Linked DNA regions of Homo sapiens. The protein of the gene in region 3 purifies or fractionates together with the protein of the main gene of each other region. This does not show direct contact. Each region holds a gene or a part of one and is shown on either strand. Other genes may lie near its edges.

Region 1 (7,030 bases), on a different chromosome or scaffold from region 3:
GGGCCCTCGCCTCTCGCCCCTCACCTTGCTCAGCCCGTTCCACTTGTCCACGAGGTGGATCCTGCTGATGTTCTGGACCCCCGTGAACACCGTGAAGAGCCCAGAGTCGGAGTTGTTGAGCTACAGACACAGCAGGGAACAGCATCGTAAGGCTTAGGCCTGCCATTGAGCCGGCCTGGTCTGAACATTCTGGGCTGAGCCCTCCTCCCCCTCCACCAGAAGGACAGGGCCCCCAGCATCTGGTTCACTGCCAAATGCCCAGTGTCTGGGGACCGAGAGGAGGCTTGGGAGCTTTCTAGGAGGAATGGTCCCGGGTTCTGTGGCTGCAGTGTTCCACCCTCCCTTCCTAACTCCAGGAGAGTCTGGCTTTCCTCCCAGGTAAATGGCAGATCACCCCCACCACACCCTACTCCAGCATAAAATAAAGCATGGCCAGGTCAGCTCCCTGAGCAATGAAAAAGGAGAAGTGGCATGTCACTTGGGGGGATGCTTTAAGGACTGTGCACACGCCTTTCACCGGGCTCTCTGCCGCTGCTATAGCAGCCAAGGAGGTATGTGTCAAGACAGAGCCTCCCTCAGCCTGGATCCCCAAGTGACCACCACAAGCGCGGGTGCCCCAGTCACCCACACTGGACGTGGAGTGCAAGCAAAGGAATAAGTCTTGGTTGTTCTAAGCCATGGAGATTCCGGGGCTGCTTGTCACAGCAGCAAAACCTGGCCTGTCCTAACCCATCGAGGTTCTTGATAGTGGGGCCCAGGCTTTGGTGCTCCGAGAGCATTTCCCAGAAGCTGGTTTCTAATCCCAAAGACATGCAAAGCACAAAGTGGTATGAGTGACTGAAGGAAATATCTAGAAGTGCTTTGCAGGGTGGAGCACACTGAGGAGCTCCAAGGTTGCCCGGCTGAGTGACTGCACCCATCACAGACCTCCAGAGCAGGACCCAGCACAAGGCCCCAGCCCAGCATCCCGGGTGTGTCTGTCACGTGCCCATGTGGAGCCAAGAATAACCAGAGCCACTACAAAGGGGAGCATTAAAGGGACTCATGTGCAAAAACGGCCAGGTACAGTGCACCGGACACAGTAAGAGCTCAAAATGATAGTCTTTATTTTCATTATTATTGTTATTATTAATAAATGCTCACCCAATAGGATACTTAAATGATCATTATAATGGACGGAGAGCATCAGAAACTGCCAGTTACTACCCAAAGCCCAATCTCTCCTTACTCTTTCATACAAAACCCAAACCATACTCAGAGCATCAGCACACCCAGCTAAAAGGCTACCTTTCCAGCTTCCCCTGGAGCTAGGTGTGGCCATGTGACTCAGTTCTGGCCAATAGAAAGGAAGTGGACATTGGTTTTCTTCCTCCCTAAGAGGGAGGAAACTGGAACACGCTGTTTTACCCCCAGTTCCTCCATCTGCTCCCCAAAGCCCCACCATTTTTTCCTTCTTGCTGTGCTGCCTGGAATGTGATGTGATTGCTGACACTCTAGCAGCCAACTTGGACAATGAGGTTATCTTGAGGATGAAAACCACATGCCAAGGATGGCAGAGCACAGTAGTAGAAGGCTTCCAGATCACTTAAGACCATGAAGCCACCACACCAACACTGAACAGCCTACCGCTAGACTTTTCTTGTGAGGTTTTCATTATATGCAGTCAAACGTAGATTATACTAAACTAGGGACTTTGTAATAACTTTCATTTGCAAAGCACTTCAGGATTTACAAGATGCCTTTACAGCATCATGCCACTTAGCCCAAACTTGCTCATTTACCCACACGACAGGAGCCCGTCACCCTTGACAAAAACGTACTGAGTATCTATCACACGCAGCACCACGATATCCCCCCCAGCACTCTACCCTGATCAGCAGAGACCAAAGAGATGGCTGAGGCTGGAGCAGTCCCAAGGACTCAGTGAAACCTGCGGTGAGGGAGCCAAGGTCAGGGTCAGACCCTCCATGGACGAGATGTTGGCTCCGAAGCCCAGTCAGTGACCCTACCAGGTTGCCAAGAGTCAAGATTAAGAGTCAGCTTGTGATATTACTCCCCAGCAGCCATGCCCCCTTCCTCCAGCAAAGCCTCCAATTTGCTAAGCTAAGGCCCAGTCACATCATTTGAGCCTGGATCAAGCTGTACCTGAATCCAACCCTAGCATTTTCAGTTCTATGAGCCCCAACATTCCCCATTTCACTCAAGCCGGTTTGAGTCAGGTTCTCAGTCACTTACAACCCACAGCCACTAGATCCCCAGCCAGCTACAAAGCAAGCTGGTGACCAGTGTCCAGGCTGTGTGAGGGGAAGACAGGACACAGGCCTGAATCTTTGGCTTCTCACCAGGCCACACGTACCTCAGCAAATAATCCGAACTTGTCCTTGAAGGGGAACATGCCTGGAAAGTACTTGTTGATGAGATTCACAAGGGGGTCCTTGTAGCCCCACATGATCTCACCCACAGTGCGGTTCATGAAGGCACGTTCGCCGAGGGTGGTGAATGCCAAGGTCATGATGAGCTTCAGGGTCATGGGCTTATTCTCCATCATCACCGCCGCACCCTGCAAGGCGAAGGGACACTAGTGTCAGAGGCTGGACGTGGCTGGCCCATCCTCCCTTGGCCCCAGCTGGGCCTCACAGCAAAGAGCCCATGAAGGGAAATGCTGGGGTGCAGGAGGCCCCTGGAGTGGCCACGTGGGGCATCTGGGACACCAGAACCACCCTCTGCTCCTCCAGTGCCAAGGCCACATGTGCTCCCGAGAACCCCTTCTCCCCCTTGCACCCCACTGGACTCAGGCTAAGTGAACTCCAGCCCCAGTCCCAGAGGCGGGCCTGTGGCTCAGCCCTCAACAAGACAGCCCCTTTTGGAGATCTCAGAAATGTAAATTGAAAAGGGAAAAAAAAGTACTTTGGCCAGGACTTCCAAACCAAGACAGGTGGACCCACCTGGGAAACTCAGAACCCACTGGGGGTGGTGGAGACAGCACAGGGCCGAAAGCCACCCACCAGGCGTGAGTCCCCACGCTCCGACCACCTCAGGGACTGCTCTCTGCACAAGGGGCAGGCGGGAGGAGAGACAGGGGACGAGGTCAGGGTGCGAGGCGGCGTGGGCCACAGGGCAGCCTCACCAAGACCAGGATGTTGGGCATGACGATGTAGTCGCTCTCCGAGCCGTGGGACTTGGAGGGCTGGAACTGGAAGGTGCGGTACTCGAGGAAGGACACGGTGTCGTTGTTGTTGAAGGTGATGTTGCTTTTGTGCCTGAACTCCCTGTGGGGGAAGCCAGTGGGTCAGACGCCCCGCCCCGCTGCATGGGACGTTTCCCTTCTACTCGCCTGCAATGCCTGCCTGGGAACCAGGGGCCCTGGACGTCTGTGCACACCTCCGGCCCCACAGCCAAAGCTGAGCTCGGCCCCTTCGCCAAGTCTGTCCCTCCCGCCGCCTGCCCACTGCAGGACATGGTGTCGCCGCCCACCCGGCCTCGTTCTGCTCTCCCCCACCCAACACGGCCATCGTCTCTCCATCTACAAAAGGAAGTAATCACAAGCCCTACTTCACAGGGCAGCTGTGGGGATTAAGCAATCAGATACCCAGAAAGCAATCAACACAGCCGCCGGGTGCAGAGAAAGCACGAGGTAAACATCAGCTGCTGTGACTGTTGCTGCTGCTGTCCTTATGATCTCTCATCTCTCCAAGCCACTCTCCACCATCCAGAAGAATCTTTGAAAAGTGGAAATCAGGTCGGGAGCAGTGGCTCATGCCTGTAAACCCAGCACTTTGGGAGGCTGAGGTGGGCAGATCACCTGATGTCAGGAGTTCAAGACCATCCTGCCCAACATGGCGAAACCACGTCTCTACTAAAAATACAAAAATTAGCTGGGCATGGTGGCAGATGCCTGTAATCCCAGCTACTCGGGAGGCTGAGGCAGGAGAATCGCTTGAACCTGGGGGGCGGACGTTGCAGTGAGCCGAGATCGCGCCACCGCACTCCAACCTGGGTGAAAGAGAGACTCCGTCTCAAAAAAAAAAGTAGAAATCAGATCGTGCCATGCTCTGGACCACAACCCCACTTTGCATGCAGGTTAAAATCAGGCTCCTAACGTGACCTCTGAGGCCCTCAGCAAGGCTCAGGCCTCGTCTCTCCACTGTCTCCCTCCCTCGTAACCCCAGCCGCACAGGCCTCTGTCCCAGCCTTCAGACCTTTGCACATGCTCTGCCCGGGACTCTGTCTCCCCAGGGCCTCTTCCCACCATGCGGGTCCAGTGAGTGTCCCTTTGCAGATGTGCTCCCGACCCTCCAGTCAGACCGAGCCCCAAGGCCACCCTCCCTCCTGCACTCCGGCTTCACACTGTTTTGTCTGCACAATACTGATGGCTGCCTGATTTCCCCTTATTTGTCCACTTCTTTACTCTCTCCCCATCAGAACATCAGCTTGGTGAGGCAGGGCCTTGGTCTGCCTGCGCCCCCAGCACACAGGAGGTGCTCAGTCAGTGCTCACAGAATGAAGGAGTATAGAGAGCTTTGGCATTTTTGCCCATTCTGTCCACTGCTGGGTCCCCTGTACTTAGAACGGCAGCCAACACCTAGCAGGTGCTCAGTAAACATTTGTTAAATGAACGAGCGAATGAGTGAATGAGTGAACGGAATGCAGCAGCTGATTCATGTTTCCCATTCCCAAACCTCAGGCACATTTGCTGGGTTTTCATCTTGGCTTTCCCAGAACCAGACTGTGGGTCTCCAACAGCGGGAACACCCTCTGCCCGCCCCATCCCTGGAACACCGTGTGCCGGGGGCAAGTCAGCTCCCCTGTCTGTGAACTGGGAAGTGGGGGTGTGGAGGAGGGGAGGTGCTGTGAAAACGCCAGGAGGTAAGGGAGTTGTAACAGGCACATCCGCCAGCCGTCTCAGAGCTCCGAGTGCATCCTGAGTGTCCCGGTGACCCCATGAAGGGGCTCTTGTGTCTCTCCAGTCTGCAGACGGGCAAACTGAGGCTCAGAGGAATGAAGTCACTTCCCCTAGGCCACAGCCAGGTACAGGACAAGCAGAAAGCAAAGGCACAACTCTGTGGTCCTTGGGCCAGCATGTTCCACAAACAGCTGACCCCTTCCCGTGCTGACCCACCCGGTCCTCTGGCCCAGATAGGGTCTGGGGGGTCGGTCCCTGCTCCTGGTCATGCATGTGTGTGTGTGTGTGTGTGTGTGTGTGTATGTGTGTATGCATGTGTAGGTACATGTGTGTGTATGTATGTGTGTGTGTATGTGTATGTACGTGTGTATGTATGTATGTGTGTATGTGTATGTGTATGTGTGTGTATGTATGTGTGTAACTCACACATGCACCCTCCACCCAGACGCACACCATTGGTCCCTCCCTGCTCCATAAAGAACCTCTCTAGGCAACGTCTGGTGATTCGCACCTGTAATCCCAGCACTTTGAGAGGCTGAGGCGGAGGATCGCTTGAGCCCAGGACTTCAAAACCAGCCTGGGCAACATAGCAAGATCCCATCTCTAAAAAAAAAAAAAAAAAAAAAAAAAACCCTAAAACAAAAACTTCTCTGGGACTAGCACTTACCCCGACTATGACTTGCCTGCTTCCGGAACAATCTCTGGGGCTCAGTCAGCAGCCTCCCCATCCCGTCCACTCTGAGACCCCTCCCCTGCCCAGCCTCAGCCGGCCCCTCCACCCTCACCTGGACACAGCCTCACCTGTACACGTAGGGCCCGCGCTCCCGCACCTGCGGCTTCTCGCCCTTCAGGATCTCGCTGGGGTTCATGACGTCAAAGAAGTAGACGGAGAGATAGAAGGGGATAGGGATCTCCTTCCACATGTTGAAGGACAGGCTACTGGGGTCGATGCGCACGTTCTGCAGGGGAAGGGACAAGTACGCTTGTGAGGAGAGTGATGAGGGCCCCACGCCCCACCACAAGGCTCCGGAACAGCTGCCCGAGCCCGGCCAGGGAAGGGGCTCCTCGGCGGGAGCTTGGGATAGGAGGTGGTGGGAAAGCCCTTCGCACATGAGGCTGTCGCACCTGGAGCTTATGGAATTAAACAGGCAACCTATCCATGCTGTCATAATGCATCTTAAAATATGTCCTAACAGCAACAGGTGACACCAGTCAAGGGACTGTGGTAAACAGGGGCCCATGCACCACCTAAAGGGAGCGCCGGAGCTCAGGGTAGCGGATGGGCTCAGGGCAGGGATAGCCTCATGCAGGAACATGGGCTCCGTGTGGCCAGGGGGATCATTCATTCATTCCACAAGCAAGCACTGAGCACTACCACCTGCCAGGCGGGTTCTAAGAGCTGGGGATGGGAGAATGACCAGGACAGACCAAAAGCCCAGCTATGTGGGGCTTTACCATAGCGGAGGAAAGGCAGGCACCAAACAACTCAGGTAAAACGCATGCCACGTGACAGAGCACAGAGAAAACACAGCAGGGATTGGGGAGAGACTGGGATTTGAGACAGTCATCACGTAAGTGAAATATAGGCCAGGCACCATGGCTCATGCCTGTAATCCCAGAACTTTGGGAGGCCGAGGTAGGAGGATCACCAGAGCCCAAGAGTTTGAGACCAGCCTGGGCAACATAGCAAGACCCTGTCTCTATAAAGAATAATTTTATTTATTTATTTATTTTTTGAGATGGAGTCTCACTCTGTTGCCCAGGCTGGAGTGCAGTGGCATGATCTTGGCTAACTGCAACCTCTGCTTCTGTGTTCAAGCGATTCTCCTGCCTTAGCCTCCTGAGTAGCTGGGACTACAGGCCCCCACCATCACGCCTGGCTAATTTTTGTATTTTTATTTTATTTTATTTTTTTGAGAGGGAGTCTTGCTCTGTGGCCCAGGTTGGACTGCAGTGGCGCGATCTCGGCTCACCGAAACCTCCATATTCCGGGTTCAAGCAGTTCTCCTCCCTCAGCCTCCCGAGTAGCTGGGACTACAGGCACCCACCACCATACCTGGTTAATTTTTGTTTTAGTTTTTGTTTTTGTTTTAGTAGAAGTGGGGTTTCACCACGTTGGCCAGGCTG
Region 2 (7,030 bases), on a different chromosome or scaffold from region 3:
CCAATAGCAGACAAACAGAGAGCCAAATCATGAGTGAACTCCCATTCACAATTGCTTCAAAGAGGATAAAATACCTAGGAATCCAACTTACAAGGGATGTGAAGGACCTCTTCAAGGAGAACTACAAACCACTGCTCAAGGAAATAAAAGAGGATACAAACAAACGAAAGAACATTCCATGCTCATGGGTAGGAAGAATCAGTATCATGAAAATGGCCATACTGCCCAAGGTAATTTATAGATTCAATGCCATCCCCATCAAGCTACCAATGACTTTATTCACAGAATTGGAAAAAACTACTTTAAAGTTCATTTGGAACCAAAAAAGAGCCCGCATTGCCAAGTCAATCCTAAGCCAAAAGAACAAACCTGGAGGCATCACACTACCTGACTTCAAACTATACTACAAGGCTACAGTAACCAAAACAGCATGGTACTGGTACCAAAACAGAGATATAGAACAGAACAGAACAGAGCCCTCAGAAATAATGCCGCATATCTACAACTATCTGATCTTTGAGAAACCTGACAAAAATAAGCATTGGGGAAAGGATTCCCTATTTAATAAACGGTGCTGGGAAAACTGGCTAGCCATAAGTAGAAAGCTGAAACTGGATCCCTTCCTTACACCTTATACAAAAATTAATTCAAGATGGATTAAAGACTTAAATGTTAGACCTAAAACCATAAAAACCCTAGAAGAAAACCTAGGCAATACCATTCAGGACACAGTCATGGGCAAGGACTTCATGTCTAAAACACCAAAAGCAATGGCAACTAAAGCCAAAATTGACAAATGGGATCTAATTAAACTAAAGAGCTTCTACAGAGCAAAAGAAACTACAATCAGAGTGAACAGGCAACCTACAGAATGGGAGGAAATTTTTGCAACCTACTCATCTGACAAAGGGCTAATATCCAGAATCTACAATGAACTCAAACAAATTTACAAGAAAAAAACCAACAATCCCATCAAAAAGTGGGCAAAGGATATGAACAGACACTTCTCAAAAGAAGACATCCATGCAGCCAAAAAACACATGAAAAAATGCTCATCACCACTGGCAATCAAATGCAAATCAAAAACCACAATGAGATACCATCTCACACCAGTTAGAATGACAATCATTAAAAAGTCAGGAAACAACAGGTGCTGGAGAGGATGTGGAGAAATAGGAACACTTTTACACTGTTGGTGGGACTGTAAACTAGTACAACCATTGTGGAAGTCGGTGTGGCAATTCCTCAGGGATCTAGAACTAGAAATACCATTTGACCCAGCCATCCCATTACTGGGTATATACCCAAAGGATTATAAATCATGCTGCTATAAAGACACATGCACACGTATGTTTATTGCAGCACTATTCACAATAACAAGACTTGGAACCAACCCAAATGTCAATCAATGATAGACTGGATTAAGAAAATGTGGCACATATACACCATGGAATACTATGCAGCCATAAAAAATGATGAGTTCATGTCCTTTGTAGGGACATGGATGAAGCTGGAAACCATCATTCTCAGCAAACTATCGCAAGGACAAAAAACCAAACACCACATGTTCTCACTCATAGGTGGGAACTGAACAATGAGAACACATGGACACAGGAAGGGGAACATTACACAACGGGGACTGTCGTGGGGTGGGGGTACGGGGGAGGGATAGCATTAGGAGATATACCTAATGCTAAATGACTAGTTAATGGGTGCAGCACACCAACATGGCACATGTATACATATGTAACAAACCTGCACGTTGTGCACATGTACCCTATAACTTAAAGTATAATAATAATAAAATAATAAAAAATTAAAAAGTTCAGTGTTCGAGTTCTCTGTCTCTTGGCCTCTGTGATGCCTGCAGAAACCCAGTCGCAACCCATTCATTCATATTCCTCTCCTTAGAGCCAGGAGTTAGCGCCCCAAGGGCAGTGCTGAATCCCTGGACAGGACTTGGGATAAATGCATTCCCCCTGCTGTCTCTCAGAGGCACAGCTGTGAAACACATTCTACCGGCTTCCTGAGAGCTTCCCAGGGAGTTCATGCCCCAGTTGCTCACAGAAGTGACCAGCTCAATGACACCCCCTTTTGGTGGATTTTTCTTCTCTATTCCATTCTTCCCTCTTTTATGAGCTCACTTTCTAAAAGAGGCTACCTGCACAAACGCCCATCACAGGCTCAGCTGTCTAAGAAAACTCTGGCTGGGAGAGTGGACTTTCCAGAATGGAATGTGGGCAGTATTCTAAAATACTAAATAAAATGCAACAGGAAAATCAAAGGGATGAACGTCACATGGCATAAAGAAGGAGGTAGAGGACATCTGCCTAGCCTTCCAAGAACAAAACAAATTGACAATCAACCCTGGCCACCCAGGAGATGAGCTTTGTCACAGCAATTCTTCCTCATATCCCAGAAAAGAGAAGAAGAAATGAGGACAGTAGAATCAACTGTGACATCCAAAAAAGGCTGCCCAATCTCTTCTCTAGAATGTGTCAACTGTGATTTATGAAATAACATATGCTATTTTTATATTGCAATGTTTGCTTATCTATAGGTAAGAGCTCACTATTTCTTATATCATGTTATAATTATATTCATGAAGAAGATGACCATTGCACAGACAAGTACACTGTGAAGAACCGTGAGGAGAGATTTTACCCTACTTGCAAGCTAACAAATGAGTCTGCCAGTTTGTTTCATCGTTGCGGCAGAAGACTCCTGGGTCAAAGCAAAGGACTGTATTACTTACAGCATAGCAAACAATATGAGCATCAGCATATTTGCATCAATTTCCTTGCCTCCAAGTCCTCTGGGGGAATATGGATGGGCACAGATGGATGTGTGCACACGCAGTGGGTTACATGACAAGTGAGGAGCCCTGAGCTTAGGGAATTCAAAGTTTTCTACGGGCAGCAGGCATTGCTTGCCCTTTGGCAACACTGCTGAAATAAATCTCTTATGGTTCAAGATGTATTGATAAGCATGTTAAGCTTATTTTTATACATGAAGAACAACAAATTGTTATTTTCTATGGTTATTCACAGTATCTCAAAATCTATGTGATATTTTACTAGCTTAGTTTTATTATAATTTTAAAAGACCATTTGGGTTCCTTTGTTAGTGGACAAGAATAAAAAGAGATAAATTAGTTACTTTCTTAAAGCTAAGCAACATCATTTTCTATTGAGGAACCCAAAACTTTCCTAACTTTTACAAATGTTTGTAAATTGTAGGTTCTGTGACAGCCTGTGCTATAAAATTTCATAAGCTTATAAGAGCTTTCTTAACACAGCTGTGGACTTTTCTCCTGGTGTTGTACAGCAGTTCAAATTAGCTCAAGAATCATAAACCCTATATTTGAACAGCTATATAATATTATATATTTATTTTCCCATTTGATGTTGCATTACTTTTTCTACCAATCTTCTTACAATAAATTCATAAATATCTTAATTATAGCAAATGTGAAGTTCTTAAAGATGAGAATCATCAAACATATTTCTATTACAGAGATATATTCTTCAAAAAGTCATCTAAAATAGAAACCCAACTGGGAGACACCTTAAAAGGTTATCTGCCACAACAGAAGCTTTGCTTAAAATACTGTTCTCTTTGTATTTGTGTTAATAATTGATTTGTCTTTGAAATTAAATTAGGAATCTACTATATCTAGTGGTCTTGAAATCAAAGCCCCCTCCCCATTCCTTATCTTCACTGCTGTGTTCAAAAAGACTAGACTCCAGGGACGTGTCCAAAGCTGGGTTAAATATAGGATGCCTGAGAGACACCCTTCTTTCATAGTTCGAGGGTAAGCATGTAGCTGTATGTGTGTGGAGGGGCGGGTGGAGGAGGTTAGCTGTATCAGGGTAGGCATAATACTATATTTTAAATCCCTCCTTCTGTTATAAATGTAAGCTGAAAATAGTCTCTGCTCCCAGCGGCAGCAATCGTAAACTCGCTTAGTTCTGCCTGTAATTTAATTTAATTTAACATGTGACATTGAGACAATGTTTCTTTTAATTCACATATAACTTCTTCCTCACCCACATTCCAGCCAAATAAACACATACTTATAGAAAAATGTGACTGTTTTCCTGGGCATCCCAACAATTCAACTGTCCCTAAAACACCAGGTTCAATTTAAACTCTATTAGCTTGTCTGAGGGCTAAGATATCTAAAAATCCAAGACAAATTATCATTTGCGTATATGGAGGCAGCTCTGATTGAACAGATATCTAAAACGGTTAGGTAATATTTTAGATCAAATCACTCCATCAAGTCAAAGACTAATTCAACTGTTTGTTCAGTTTCCAAAGGAATCCTTCCATTTTGGTCTAGTGTTCCATAAACATTGACTTTACATGAAAAGGACAGTGAAGAGATCTCTTGAACCGGCCAGAAAGTTGAAGCTCAAGGTTGTAGAAGATTTGAGCTACCAAGTCCAAGCCTTCTAAAAGATTCCCAATATGTATATATATCATTTTCCTAACTCTACATTTGCCTGAGAAACAATGACATTCAATAAACTTTTTTCCATGGGATTTAGTTACAAAATAAGTCAAGGAACTACAAGTTATATATTTCCTGGAAAAATATACTATTATATATATATATTATATATTCAAAACTCCGTAAAGCATATAAAGTATAAGCATATACTGAGTTATAAGGCATAACTCAACATGTTATTTTAACCTAAAATTTTCTTAGGGCCTCAATTGCAAATGCTTTAATTGCCAATGGTTCATAAACACATCTGTGAATTAGAAGCAAGTAATATCCTCTGTTTTTATACTCTCAAAAAATGTGATTATACTTAATCAAAAGTAATTCAAACCACAGCCCAGGCAATACATACTAGACCATGTCTTCTTGGTAATTTAATTCTTAGCAATAATTTTAATTGCTGCCTTATTAAGTAGGTATGCTACTTAAATTACAATCCTGTAGTTATAAGGTTAAAACTATTTTAAAATCTCAAATGTTTTTAGATTTCAATCACTCTTCGTATTATTACAACAAAAATGTTCATTAACTGGAACACATGCAGTATCATTTTTTAGCCCCCACTTTATGATATTTTTTAATTTTTATTACCAGAGTAGTCATTTCATTATAAAATTTTAACCAAGCTAAGCATATACTCCATTTTTTAGAAAACTAGATTTACTGTAGTCCTGTTAAGGCTATCATAGTAAGCAATGAATTTCACACTTGTCTTTTATACAGTACAACACATCAAGCAGATATATGAAATCCTTGACAAAAGACATTTAAAACAAACAATTCCATGCTTTATATGTCAAGTGAAAAGGAATATTTTTTCTACAGTGACAGAGCAGACTTGACATGTGCACAATCATGTACAACCAAGCGTTTGCAAATGCTCTTACAACGTGGAGCAACCGGGCCTAGGGACAAGCAACCTTTCAGCTAAGAGTCTCGTCAAAGGTGCGGAAGCCCATTACAGAAGACCAGATAACAGTCAGTCTGACGGGTTCATTCAGATATTCAAGCTTTAAAAAGTACTTTGAAGACTGATACAGATGTCCTAGGCAATAAACTTCCCGAAAAGAATGGGGAACAATCCCAGTGCCAATCACATCTTTGTCATTCAGAAATCCAGGCTAATTTGATTTAGAGACATACATAAATGAACTGTTATTTCTCATAACTGTTTTTTTTTCAGCCTCTTTATTTTTAATCTACATCTCTTAGGTAAAATGCATCAATTTAACTACATTTACTTATTCTGAGTTTTTCTATTGGTCCATGTTTCCTTTAAACACAATTTTGAATGGTTTTTTAAAGTAACCATTTGATTTTGAAACCAATTTACAGAAAACATGGAAGAACTACGCTAATATGCTGTATCACCCCTGAATACTTCAATGTACATTTCCTACAACAAAGATGTTCTCCTATATAACCATAATATGATCATCCCAGTCATCATGGATAAAGTTCCAATATTTAATCCCCAATCTTGTTCAAGTTGCACCAATTCCCAATCATGTCCTTTATAACATAAGCATTTAATGCAGAGTAGTATTTAGTTGCCTTGTTTTCTTAGCCTCCGTCAATCTGGAATGCCTCCTTCCTCACTCCACTCAACCTCTGACAACTTGCTATAGGTCACCACCAGTGCTGTCTCCTGTCTCTCCAGGTCCCCACCCTTGCTACACTGTGGATGCTTTCCTTACCCTGCTGGTTTCTGAATGCTCTGCCACGGTCCTGGGCCTCCCCACTACCCAGCATGGATGCCTAAGCTGAACTGAATGACCTTGGACTGAATTGTTCAAAAAGAGAAGGGGAGAGGAAGAGGAAGAAGAACGCCAAGTAATTTGATTTTTCTTTTTTCATGATCAAACCAATGTCTTGGAATTGATTATCACTTCCATGGGCTACTTATGCTCCGTACTGTTTGTATAGAGTTTGGTGAAAATGAATAAAGGCAACTGAACTACATTTTTTGGTTTTTTTTTTGAGACAGAGTCTCACTCTGTCACCCAGGCTGGAGTGCAGTGGCACGATCTCAGCTCACTGCCTCCTCACAGGCACCTGCCACCATGCCCTGAAATTTTTTCATATTTTTAGTAGAGACGGGGTTTCACCGTGTTGTCCAGCCTGGTTTCGAACTCCCGACCTCAACTGATCCACCCACCTCAGCCTCCCAAAGTGCTGGGATTACAGGTGTGAGCCACCGCGCCTGGCCTGAACTCCATTTTTTATAGAGTACCATTTGACACTAAAATTAAGAGTCTGTTACTCATCTGCAGAATCTCTCTTTAAATGGTATTACTAAAAGGTCCAAAATGAAACATCTGTAAAAATAATTATTCCTACACTCTGTGAGATCTCTTTCCTGACACATTTCACATCTAAGTGAGTTTCCTAACTAACCCACACACACTCTATAGTAGGCTTACCCTTCTTTCCCCAGGCTGGCTGGCGAACTTGCAAAACATAACCATTTAGGGGAAAAAATTGAGGCAATTAAAATTAAAAGTGTTTTAGGCTAAG
Region 3 (7,083 bases):
GTTTTCTATTGCCATGGTTTTCATTCGCGAACGCAGGATGGGAAATCTGTAAGGAATCCAGGATGATTTCTGCAAATATTTCCTTCTGGGATGCTTGCATTCAGGCCCCATTAGTAACAGAATGCTGGTTACTCTAGAGTTGATTATCAGCCACAGCAAAAGTCCACTCCCCTATGGAAACCACCCTCGATTCAAGGCCCGAGACTGCAGGATCATAACAAGACCAGTGGAGATGTGCAGGGCAAGTGATTTATTAAAGCAACGTGTTGAAACCTTTACAATTTTTAGTGAAGATCAGGGTGTCGTTGAAAGACTTTGGAAACCAGGTTGAGCATTTTTACATGTCACACACCACATTTTTTCACTATTTCCACCTGAAATCAAAAAAAAGAAAGAAAGAAAGAAAGGTGAGGTCAGTCATGCTGCTGCTGGTGATGATAGGCTAACATCAAAGAGGCCAATGGGATTTTGCCCCAATGGCAATTGGAAAGGCAGAGGCAAGAATTCAGTTTGGGAAACTGAGGCCTAGACCTGGTGGCCTTACAACACCCATTCTGGTGAGAAAGCAGCCTTTCCCCACCAGACCAATAGACCTGGGAAGACCCAGGAGTTAGGCCCAGGGTTTTCATGGAGGAGGAGGGGAGGGGTTGACAGTGCAGCAAGAGGTTGTTGTCTGGGCTGTCCCAGGTCTGTGGAGTCTCCTGATCCCTGTAATGGGGGACCCAGGGCTCTGAAGCCAGGCAGGGCAGGGAGGGCTTCTGGGAAACACACCTTCCAGGAGACTCCAGTCTTCCCATGGGAGAATTCTGCCTAACGGCCAGGGGTCTTATCAGCCCTGACCCTGCAGCTTCTATGGGTATTTGCAGCCAAACCTCAGGACAACAATCCAGAGGCAGCCAGGCTGAGAGGGCCCTGGAATCTCTGATTTCTTGAGAAAGACATAGTGAGAACATCCCACTTGTGTGGCGTTGCAGTAGGTAGAGCAGCGAAAAAGTCTTGGCCCACTGGCTGTGGTCAGGAGAGTGTCATGGATGAGGAGTGGATAGTGGGCCCTGAGGAGCTGCAAGGGGCTCCTGGCTCTGCAGAAGCTGCACAGGAGCCCAGTTCACCAGCACCCTGTCTGTGGGAGGCCCAGCTCTAGGTCCCCTCAAGCCTCCTCTCCCTGTTCAAATCTCCCACACTCCCTGGGACATCCCATAGTGACCGTGTCCACTGCGTGAGGGTAGGTTGACCTCAGGAAAGATCCCAGCAGGGAGGCGGCCGTGCTTGGCCCTTCACCATCCCTGCCTTGGCCCTAGCTCACTCCCCATGTCCTCAGCACACTCTGGGGACACAGCATCCAGGCAGGTGACCTGACAAGAAACATGCAGGAGGCTGTGTGCAGCTGAGTTGAATTCTGCCTCTGCATAAAGGAGAAAGAAATTACCAGGACTTTTTCAATGAGAGTCGTTTCTTAAAAGATATCTGATCGGTGCAGTGCTTCACTTCCAACTTGGCTGCAAGAGCTTCTGGAGGTGGATTAAGTTTGGCAACTTGGAGGTTTACCGCAGCGTCACTTAAGAATAAGAAGACTGTGATCTCAGAAGCAACAGCTGGGCAGACAAGAGCATGGGCTGCAGCACAAAAATAAAAATATTGTTGATGTTAGGAAAGTCGATTTTTCTCTCATGGCTCCCTGAGGTTACACCAGACAGGATCCCCTGGGTTCTATGTTTCTATACCATTATTGTGCTGATGACAATACCAGAAACTCCAGGTGTGACTTTCTCCGGGTCACACAACAAAGGGAAGAGCTTCATATCCTCAGCTAGACTTCTTTTTCTTTTTTTTGAGATAGGTTCACCCAGACTGGAATGCAGTGGCACAATCTCGGCTCACTGCAGCCTGAATGTCTTGGGCTCAAGCGATCCTCCCTCAGCCCCCAAAGTAGCTGAGACTACCAGTGCCTGCCACCATGCCCGCTTTTGTGTGTGTGTGTGTGTGTGTGTGTGTGTGTGTGTGTTTTGTTTTGTTTTTTTTTTTTGTAGAGATGGGGTTTCGCCATGTTGCCCAGGCTGGTGCTGAACTCCTGAGCTCAAGTGATCTGCCCACTGTGGCCTCCCAAAGTGCTAAGATTACAGGAATGAGACACCATGCCTGGCCCACAGCTTGACTCTTGACAACCATAACCTTACTTCATTCTCATAGCCACTCCTGGCAGAAGCTTTAACCACCAGTGATAAGAGGAGGCTCAAGGAGGGTGAGCATTGTGCCCAAGATCAAGGGGTGGGAAGTGTCGAAGCCCAGGTTCACCCCAGACCTCACATTACATCATCTGACACAGATCCCATTCAGAAGTGAAGCTCAGGCAGAAGAATTCCTAACATTTGCCTGAACTGATTTTTCTATAAAACTTCTTAGATACTGGGGATTAGAAGAAATAGCTCTAAGCAGCCAGGCGCAGTAGCTCATGCCTGTTATCCCAGCACTTTAGGAGGCCGAGGCGGGCAGATCATCTGAGGTCGGGAGTTCGAGACCAGCCTGACCAACATGGAGAAACCCCATCTCTACTAAAAATACAAAATTAGCCAGCTGTGGTGGCCCATGCCTGTAATCCCAGCTGCTCAGGAAGGCTGAGGCAGGAGAATCACTTGAACCCCGGAGGCAGAGGTTGCAGTGAGCCAAGATCATGCCACTGCACTCCAGCCTGGGCAACAAGAGCAAAACTTCTCAAAAAAAAAAAAAAAAAAAGGAAGAAGAAAGAAGAAATAGCTCTAACCTTTATGAATCTTATTCAACAAGCACAGAAAAGGGTTTGGAATTTTGTTTGGTTTTGTGCAGACCCCAACCCAAAGCACAAATAGGTGATCTTGTGCTCAGAAGAGGGTGCATCCCAGGGGCTGGTGCTGGACTCATGACTGATGTACTCACCCTGGTAGCAGCAAAGGGCCAGCGAGACCATCAGGAGACACACTGACAGCCTCATGGTGGCTTATTCGGCTGTGAGCTCAGCTTTCACAATGAGTGATTTGGATTCGACTCCAGGAGCCTGTGTAGTCATGGAGGCCAGGGCTATTTGTACCTAGGGAGCCTGGCTGGTCCTACCTACCGGGGCACCTGGTAGGTCATGAGGCCTGGCTCCCAGCCCGCCCTTCCAAGCCAGGGCTGCTGCCGTCCATCAATGTCACCTCCTTAGGAATCTCTGCATCTGAGTGGGGCGGAGCACAAGACAGCAGCCTTGTGAGAACTCTGCTCTGTGCTCCAGGTGAGTGTTCAGGTACATCTGGAAATGTTCCTGGGATCCTCAATTTCCTTATGAGCTTTTGCTGATTAGTTCTTTTTATCTTTGTAGCAGTGCAGGGGCACAGGTGAATTATGGCTTCACAAGGCACAGGAAGCTGGAAGGCTGTGTTCTCTTTATGGGAGAGCAGGGACATAAGGAGACCCTGCTTTGATCCCCCTGCATGTCTGACAACAAGCAGGCTTGTTTCAGTTGCACATTGGGAAAGTCTAATCCTTCCCCTCAGCCCCTTCCATCACCACCATGTTCACTGCATAGGTACTGAAAACATAGTTGAATACATCCCACCTGTAGAAGATATGCTGAGGAAAAACATCTGCTGCACCTGTTCTCTAGCCTGCCTCACTCCCAAACCTGAATCTTGTTTATACGTGCAGTTATATATATGGCCAAGATTCACATTTTCTATCTATAAAAAGCAAGCTTTCTGTGATGTGTAGCCACCCACGTCTTATCTTAGGGCTGATCTGAAGATTAAATAACCTAACTCTTTTTCTCAAGAGCTTTTGGAGTGTTCAGAGCCAATCATACATCAGTGGGGCTCTAGGCTGGGAAGATAATAGAAGGGAAGAGACAGAGGAACAGGGTGGGTGGTCACTTCCCCCTAACCCCTAGGCTCAAGTTTTCCACTTCAAACCTATCTGTGCTGCCTGGGCCAATCCCATTTTTAAGGGAAAGTGAAGGAAGCCCCCAGACAAAGCAATACACACCCGCCTTCCCTCCCATTGCCGTGCCTTCATGTGGTGTGAGTTTAATCACCAGAAATTTTTCTCTTAAATAAACTTACATTTGAGAGGAGTCACAGCCCAGGCCATAGCTTTCCATTCTCAGCTATGTAGTCAAATCACTTGGAGCTTTTAAAACATACTGACCCCACAGGCTTCTCTCTCTGGCGATTTTGATTCAGTAGCATTGGGGTGAATCCCTCCTTTCTGTACTGTTTAAACTGCTCTGGTGTTTCTCACAGACAGCAGGGCTGAGATCCAGCCAGGAAAACCTTTAAGAAGGAAGGGGACCTTACGGGTTTTGTCATCAAAGACACATTGACAGATTTAGTTGAGTCCAAGCTGAGGGCAACAGTGGATCTCACTTTCATCACACAGGATGACGACGGAGTCCCTGAATCAGCCCTGCTGCCACCAAGGAGGGGGAGGGTTGGTGGTGAGGTTTACAGCTATGAGGGTTCAGATCCTCATTTATGGGCTCCTGGACCTTAGGAAAATTATTCAGTTTATGTAACCCCAGTTTTCTCATTTGTCAAAGTAGGCTACTAATGGTGCCTACATCATTGGGTTGATAGATGATCAAATGAGTGTGTTCATGGGTGTGTGTGTGTTTAAAATATACCAAGTTCTGGTACATAGTAGTTCTCAATGTAAACTGCCATTATCTTGTCCCATTTGTCATATATGTCATGGTTTGCCAGTAGTTCCTAGTTTAGAGCACAGCCAAAATCCACTAAATCACCTACTTGCAGAACTACACGGACACCTAGATACACCATTTCTCTTTGACATAAATGGAAAAGGAAACCCAGCTCATGGTCTTGGAGGCTGCAAACCCATGAATATGGGCTTCAGGACTGAGGCCTCTTTTGCAGTAGACAGGTCTGTGAAGCATCCACCCTTTTTGTGGATGAGAGTTTATCCTCACTCAGGCTTGACATTCACCTTGTCATCTGTACAGTCCATTGGGGAGCATGTGTATCTCTGACAGAGGATTGTTTGCGTATACTTTTATTAGTCCTACCACGATTAACACCTATGCAGGGTTTTTTTGTTTTCATCATTGATGCTTTTTATGGCTCCCTCCTTTTTACACAATTGACTCAAGATTTTAGTTTATTCTTTCCATCCATGGACATCGTTGCCTGACCCCGATGACTTGTTCAATACTCCCCTTCATAGACTCTGCTGGAACCATGCACCTCTCATTTGCAGCAATCTCAAGTAACAAGGAATTTAAAAGGATTTTCTTTAAAAGTGCTCAGCTTAATTAAAAGTGGATATGTTCAAGTTATAGGTATATTGAAAAGGTCTTTATGCTTTTCTCTTGTTGAATCTTGTTTTTTGGGAAAAAGGCTCTTTTCTTTTCAATCAACTGAATTATTTTTCTCCATTTTTCATCTTACCATTCTTAATGCAAGCATGAGAAGCCCTAAGATAACTTCTGGTAGCATGGGACTCCTTGGGAAAAACAGAGGAGGCACCACAGACCCCATTTTGGGGAAAAAAAAAAAACTGTTTTCCTCATGAAACCCCCAAAATTAAAAGCAGTTACTTCTCAAAATCAAAGGCTCTGTTCTGTTATGTATTGTGTAATCTACCATTTTGAGTTTTGGGGGTGTCAAATTACTTCACACTATGAGAGAGCTTCGGTGTGTAATAACTAGATAGAAAATTCAATGTTAGGGATGGCTAATAGTAGTTATAATCAAAGAAGCGTGCTCTTGGCCACCTGAAAGATATGGCAACATCCTCACCCCCAACTAAGAGACGAGACTCCCATGGGGAATGGGCTCATTACAGAATAAGCCAATTGGCTTTGGGTTCCCTTGCAGTGAAATACGTGATAGAACCACTACACTGTCTTCTCCCATAGTATCTCCCTCCTTTTAGGGACCCAAGATCAGGTATAAAATGGCACCCTTAATTTTAGGGATCTGCCTTTGCCTTCAGCTGCGTCTGTTTATTAGGTATGCTACATAGCCCTGTTCCTTCAAGGGCTCCACCCTAAAGCCAGTAATCCAATTAAGAGACTACCAAGTGAAAAATCTTACAAGTGCTGAATCTTCTGTTTCTTAGTGTTGCTATATATGTGCTGTGTGTGATGTCTATAAAAAGAGCTCTGATTGATTGGCTTAAAGAAAAATAAGTGCTTCAATCAAATGTTTTAGTTCACATGACTTGAAGAAATAAAAATAGTCTGAAGGATTATTAGTAAAAGGCAAGTGTCATCAAAATGCAAATAGGTTGTCTAAATCATATAATTTAGATACCAGGTTTGCTAAATGTTGCAAGGTCATATACTGCCTGCTTTACACATAGGTAAGGCCTGGGACTCATGGAGCTAGAAGCTGAAAAGTCAGACTTTATCTGCACTTCTGTCTGGGTCCTAGGATCCACAGCTGGAACATAATTAAAATTGCTTACTAACCAGGTTTTTCACCAAAAATAAAAGGTGAAGGGTAAAGTTATTGTAAACCACAGAGATAAATACACTTCTTTGTCAGTTGATGGTGTTTTCTAAATATACAATCATGTCATCTGCAAACAGAGACAATTGGATTTCCTCTTTTCCTATTTGAATACCCTTTATTTCTTTCTCTTGCCTGATTGCCCTGGCCAGAACTTCCAATACTGTGTTGAATAGGAGTGGTGAGAGAGGGCATCCTTGTCTTGTGCCAGTTTTCAAAGGGAATGCTTCCAGCTTTTGCCCATTCATATGATATTGGCTGTGGGCTTGTCATAAATAGCTCTTATTATTTTGAGATATGTTCCATCAATACCTAGTTTATTGAGAGTTTTTAGCATGAAGGGCTGTTGAATTTTATCAAAGGCCTTTTCTGCATCTATTGAGATTATCATGTGGTTTTTGTCATTGGTTCTGTTTATGTGATGGATTATATTTATTGATTTGCATATGTTCAACCCGCCTTTCATCCCAGGGATGAAGCTGACTTGATCGTGGTGGATAGCTTTTTTTATGTGCTGCTGGATTCAATTTGCCAGTATTTTATTGAGGATTTTCTCATCGATGTTCATCCGGGAGATTAGCCTGAAATTTTCTTTTTTTGTTGTGTC

What was found. The genes of interacting proteins can lie anywhere in the genome.
Region 1: the proteins of SCGB1D4 (region 3) and SCARB1 purify together in Homo sapiens (affinity purification with mass spectrometry; 2 studies listed by BioGRID and IntAct, with this or other methods). This does not show direct contact.
Region 2: the proteins of SCGB1D4 (region 3) and CNTNAP3 purify together in Homo sapiens (affinity purification with mass spectrometry; 2 studies listed by BioGRID and IntAct, with this or other methods). This does not show direct contact.

The regions. Positions count from the first base shown.
Region 1 is NC_000012.12:124,811,846-124,818,875, forward strand, and holds part of SCARB1 (scavenger receptor class B member 1), read right to left. Parts: intron 5,863-7,030; coding exon 5,705-5,862; intron 3,270-5,704; coding exon 3,128-3,269; intron 2,561-3,127; coding exon 2,357-2,560; intron 121-2,356; coding exon 25-120; intron 1-24. UniProt on the Homo sapiens protein: Receptor for different ligands such as phospholipids, cholesterol ester, lipoproteins, phosphatidylserine and apoptotic cells. Receptor for HDL, mediating selective uptake of cholesteryl ether and HDL-dependent cholesterol efflux.
Region 2 is NC_000009.12:39,278,149-39,285,178, forward strand, and holds part of CNTNAP3 (contactin-associated protein-like 3 isoform 1 precursor), read right to left. Parts: intron 1-7,030.
Region 3 is NC_000011.10:62,296,046-62,303,128, forward strand, and holds SCGB1D4 (secretoglobin family 1D member 4 precursor), read right to left. Parts: upstream 3,031-7,083; 5' UTR 2,966-3,030; coding exon 2,911-2,965; intron 1,614-2,910; coding exon 1,427-1,613; intron 375-1,426; coding exon 365-374; 3' UTR 236-364; downstream 1-235.